Regions from separate parts of the Homo sapiens genome. Here region 1 is linked to region 2. The links come from fine-mapping of genetic effects on plasma protein levels. A gene starts in region 2. The other region holds a variant in brackets. All regions are shown on one strand. Distances are between the middles of the regions.

Evidence for each region. PIP is the chance, under the fine-mapping model, that this variant and not a neighbour inherited with it causes the effect. Sun 2018 read protein levels with aptamers (SomaScan).
Region 1: its variant is fine-mapped to the plasma level of the ASIP protein (Sun 2018, PIP 0.95).

The regions. Positions count from the first base shown.
Region 1 is chr20:33,973,097-33,976,010 of GRCh38, forward strand. No RefSeq gene overlaps it. Among named protein-coding and RNA genes, the nearest start is that of RALY, 19 kb to the right of the region's middle. The variant CT/C (reference allele first, on the strand shown) is at 1,173.
Region 2 is chr20:34,239,619-34,242,532 of GRCh38, forward strand. It overlaps ASIP (agouti signaling protein), which reads left to right and starts at 1,805. Exons shown (of 4, transcript NM_001672.3): 1 at 1,805-1,871. It also overlaps a transcript of AHCY not described here. RefSeq lists enhancers at 1,604-1,673, 1,694-1,843, 2,897-2,914.

The DNA of each region.
Region 1 (2,914 bases), 270 kb before region 2:
ATTTCATACTTAAAGGTAAAGGTGCTATTGTAAATTCTCAGAAATGGAATTGTTGGGACAAAGAGCACATGTATTTTTAATTTTGATGTTTCCAAATTATCTTCTATAGGTATTGCACCAACTTATATTCCTTATTCTCCTGAGACTGCCATGCCCCCTCCACTGACTCTCTGCCGACAGATAACATGTTAGGGTCTTGCTAATCTGATAGTTTAAAAAAAGTGAAATTTATCTGAGTTTTGAGTCATAATTAGGTAGGCCTTTTCCATGCCCTCAAAATAAAGGAATTTTCCTATGTTTTCTTTTAGTGTCTTTACTTTTTTTTTTTTTTTTTTTTAGACAGAGTCTTGCTCTGTTGCCAAGGCTGGAATGCAGTGGCGTGATCTCGGCTCACTGCAACCTCCAGCTCCCGAGTTCAAGCGATTCTCCTGCCTCAGCCTCCCGAGTAGCTGGGGCTACAGGCGCGTGCCACCACGCCTGGCTAATTTTTATATTTTTGGTAGAGACGGGGTTTCACCATGTTGACCAGGCTGGTCTCGAACTCCTGACCTCAGGTGATCCGTCCGCCTCGGCCTCCCGAGGTGCGGGGATTACAGATGTGAGCCACTGTGCCCGGCCAACATCTTTACTTTTTTATTTGAATCTTTGATCCTTGTAGAAATTATCCTGAGCTGTATGTGGTGGCATGTACCTGTAGTTTCAGCTACTAAGGAGGCTGAGTCGAGAGAATTGCTTAAACCCAGGAGTTGGAATCTAGCCAGGCAGCATCACCAGAGTCCTGTCTATCTTTTAAAAATTCCCCTATCTTATCACCAGGAATTAGAGACCAAAAAAGAAAAAAAATTACCTGGTGAAGAGAGAGAGGAATAGATCTAACTTGTTGCTGTTGTTGCTTTCTATCATATGGGTACCCAGTTTTCCCGTCAACTCTCTTGAAACAGTCTATCTTATCTCCTCTGGTGTAAGATGCGACTATTATCATATACTTAATTCCTGTGTGTATTTTGGATGTATTCTAGGCTTTCTAGTCTATCCGGCTAGTTGTCTATCTATTCATACAACAACACTATACTGCTTTAATTATTATTTATAAAGATTGTATCTTTGATAGCGGTAGTCCTCTCTCATTCTTTTTCTTTTCTTATTTATTTATTTGTTTTATTGTTTCTTTT[CT/C]TTTTTTTTTTTTTTTTTTGAGACAGAGTTTCACTCTTGTTGCCCAGGCTGGAGTGCAATGGCATGATCTTGGCTCACCGCAACCTCCGAATCCCGGGTTCAAGCGATTCTCCTGCCTCAGCCTCCCGAGTAGCTGGGATTACAGGCATGAGCCACCACGCCCAGCTAATTTTGTATTTTTAGTAGAGACGGGGTTCCTCTATGTTGGTCAAGCTGGTCTCGAACTCCCGACCTCAGGTGACCCGCCCACCTCGGCCTCCCAAAGTACTGGGATTACAGGCGTGAGCCACTGCGCCTGGCCTTCTTTTTTCACTTTTTTGTAGAGATGAGAGTCTTGCTTTCTTGCCCAGGCTGCTCTTGAACTGGCCTCAAGGGATCCTCCTACTTCAGCCTCCCAATGTGCTAAGATTACAGCTGTGAGCCACCACACCCAGCCTTCTTATTTACATTTTTAAAGTTAACTGTAAAACATCCTCAAGCAGGTCCTTCAGGAGGTATTCCTGAAGAAGGCATTGTTATCATAGGAGTTGACAGCTCCATGTATGTATTGCCGCCGAAGACCTTCCAGTGGCATGAGATGTGGGTGGACCTGGAATATGATGATATTGATGATCCTGATCCTGTGTGGGCCTAGGCCAATGTGTGTGTTTGTGTCCTAGTTTTTAATTTAAAAGTTTAAAAAATAAAAACAAAAACCTTCAGAATCAAAAAAGCTTATAGAATAAGCATATAAAGAAGGAAAATAGTTTTGTGGAGCTGTACAATTTGTTTGTGTTTTAAGCTATGTATTACAAAACAGTCAATAGGTTTTTAAAATTTTTTAAGTTTATAAAGTAAAAAAGTTACAGTGAACTAAATTTATTTTTTAAGAAAAAAGATACTTTTCATACATTTAGTGCAGCCTTAGTGTCCAGTGTTTATGAAGTCGACAGTAGTGTACAGTAATGTCCTAGGCCTTCACATTCAGTCACCACTCACCCACTGATGCACTTAGAGCAACTTCAGTCTTGCAAGCTCCATTCATGGTAAATGCCCTATAGAGGTGTACAATTGTATCTTTTATACCATATTTTTACTGTACCTTTTCTATGCTTAGATATGTTTATTTATTATTTATTTATCTGGGAGACAGGGTCTTGCTCTGTCGCCCAGGCTGGAGTGCAGTGGCGCAATCTCGGCTCACTGCAACCTCCGCTTCCTGGGTTCAAGTGATTCTCTTGCCTCAGCCTTCCGAGTAGCTGGGATTACAGGTGCGTGCCACCACACCTGACTAATTTTTGTATTTTTAGTAGAGATGGTGTTTCGCCATGTTGGCCAGGCTGGTCTTGAACTCCTGACTCAGGCGATCCACCTGCCTCAGGCTCCTAAAGTGCTGGGATTACAGGCGTGAGACACTGTGCCCAGCCAACTTAGATATGTTTAATTACACACACACTTCCCATTGTGTTATAATTGCCCATAGTATTCAGTATGGTAACATGCTGTATAGGCTTGTAGCCTAGAAGCAATAGGCTATACCATATATATGTCTATGGTATAGCAATAGGGTGTGTAGTGGGTTATACCATCTAGGTTTGCATAAGTGCACTCTATGATGTTCTTTGCACAAGGATGAAATAACCTAATGAAGCATTTCTCAATATTTATCCTCACGGTTAAGTGATGTATGACTATTTATATATATATATATATATATATATATGTGTGTGTGTGTGTGTGTGTATATATGTGTATATATATA
Region 2 (2,914 bases):
TGGTAGATGAGATAGCAGTGTTCAGACAGTTTATGTGACTTGTCCAAGATCAGAGAGAAAGTAACAAAGCCTAAACTGGAATCCAGATCTCCTGACTCCCTATTCACTTATCTTTCCAGTTGCCCTTGTCTCTACAAATCACCAAAAGAAATTGGTTCCTAGAAATAAGGATAATGTAGGGGTGTGCCATCCCCTATCCCACTCTTCTGCACCCATCACCACGAAAACAGACAATGTTTATTGCAGGGCCCCATATTAACCTACTTTCTTCTGCAGAGCCTCTAAGCTCCACATTATCCAGGAAGCAATACATTGTGACTGTTGAAGTCAAAATAAAACATAGCGATGAATCTCTAACTTTAAAGCATTCTATTTTGGAAGCAAGGATTGCAGTTTGAGGCATACACACTAACCAGGTGGTCTTCAGTGTGTCTGAGGAACAGAAAGAAGGTTGGGAGTTTTATTAGAGAAATGTTCTATACTGTTTTGAAAGAAAGCTCATTGGCACTAAAGAATCATTTGGAAAGAAGGGAAAAAAAGAGAAAAAAGAAGCATTTGGGAGCTGGCAAACTCTGATTGGTGAGTGATGGTGGTAGGCAAAACTATTCTTAAAGTCATGTTTCAGCAGCTACTAAACTAGTCTTGGGGTTACAGCAGGCCATTTTAGCAGCTGGGCTTGTGAAAAATTTAATTCATGGAGCAGGTGCTGTGCCCCAAGTGCTTCTTCCCTCCTGGTCCCTAGACTCTGATTTAGTTGGGTATGACAAGAATGACCCAGTTTGTGTGATCAGCTTTCACATAACCTTGTAAATTCTAGTTGATCCAAGGAAAACCAACTAAGTAAGGAGAAGAAAAGAACTGCAGCGTCATAGTTTTTGAGTCTGTGTAAGTACAGCCCTTTGACTGAAATCTGAAAATTATGAGACCAATATTCCTGCAAAAAAAGGTCCCAAAGAGATTTTACTAATAAGGTGGGCTGGGCCTCAGCAATCTGCCCATCAAGAGTTTAGCTTCTCCACCAACTACTCCTTAACTCACCCGGAATTTCTGAAACAAGCTGAATTAGACCCTTCTTTGGCAGGACTTGTTTTTCTAGGTTAACTCAATTAGACTGTTTTATTCCGTCTCTTGGGATCCATTCTGAATTAAATTTTCATTAAACTCTGCCCTTGGAGTATCCTTGATGCAACCACTTCCCTTCCAATCCCTTGTAACCTCAATGTCAACATCAATTCCAATTCTAAAGAATTGGGAGAAATATGGGAAGAACAGACCACAAGACTTCTGGCAACCAGAATGAGTATGAAGGCATGACGTTTGCTTGGCTGAAAGCAAAGAGATGAGGTGGGGAAGCCAGCTCTGGGAGATCCTGGGATCTTTAAAAAATCTCAGAGCAACACGCCTTGCCTCTGCTATCCACGGACAGGAAAGACGCTCTGCTTTGGCGACCCTTAGAGGGGCTAATAGAGGCACAGTCACTTGCACCGTAAATAGGAGGAAACAATTTTCTTTTCTTCTGCCGCCTATAGAGATTCTATTTTCTTCTCTAAGTTTAACTTTTATATGAACTGGGTTGCTAGAGAGCTCCTTTGTAAAATAAAGGATAACCCTTTACCTTTTGCTTCTTTTGTAAAACCTCTCTTGATCTGCTTGCAGCTGCCTTTCAGCTGATGAAACATTTCCTATTTTCACTGTGGATCTGAAAGAACCTTCCTGCCTGTGAGATGTGGTGAAGTTTGAAATAATTTTGTAGTATGATTGGTTGTTTTCTTGTTCTTGTCTTTGAAGTTATAGATGAGCAAGCAGCAAATCTCTACAGCTGCAAGGTGAAAAAGGAAGTTCCTTGGCCTGGGCTCTTTGCGGGAAAGCATGTGAGTTTAGATGGCAACTTTAATCTGCTTTCAGGAGTGAAGCTGCTGCTACTTTGGAAAGTTGAAAGGACTTAACAGTTATCCCTCCTTTCTTGGAAAGTTAAACAGATTTTTTTGATTCACTTTTGTGGGTCAGAGTAGTTAAGAGGAGTTCAGTGTGAAGAAAGCAGTTGATCTTTTGCTAACTAGTGGCTTCTTTCTCTTTACTCTGTGCCTTTTCCATTGCCTAGCAGTAAACGAATAAATAAATATATCTATATGTATATCTAAGAAAGAAGTACTCCTAAATATCGACCCTGACCCCAAAGTCACACTTTAATGCTTCTTTAAATGTCTTCAGAAAGTTGCTTGTGGTTTCAGATTTCTAATAACTCTTACAGAGCAGAATTTAGGATTTAGGGATCAGTCTGCACGTGTAGCATTTGTTCATTTCATATTTATTAGAGATGAAACAGATGACCAAAATTCCATTTATTGCAGACTCTCCTTTTCCTTTGTAAATGTTTGACTTTTCTGAATGGATATCCATATTCACACATTTTAATGCCCATTAAAGGAAGCTCAGGTTAATGTTTTCAATTGTAGGTGAGTTCGCTCTGCTTCAGTGATATGGAACATTTTGTTCTGCTGTTTCCATTGGAGGAGATTAAAGAGGCTAAATGGGATGGCATAGTGAAGTCATTTTTGGTTTCCTTTTTAAAATTTTTATTTTATTTTATTTTATTATTTTTATTTTATTTTATTTATTTACTTATTTATTTTTGAGACGGAGTCTCACTGTCACCCAGGCTGGAGTGCAATGGCATGATCTTGGCTCACTGCAACCTCTGCCTCCTGAGTTCAAACGATTCTCCCACCTCAGGCTCCTGAGTAGCTGGGACAACAGGCACACACCACCACGCCTGGCTAATTTTTGTATTTTTAGTAGAGACAGGGTTCCACTATGTTGGCCAGGCTAGTCTCAAACTCCTGGCCTCAGGTGATCTGCCCACCTCAGCCTCCCAAAGTGCTGGGATTACAGGCGTGAGCCACAGCACCCAGCC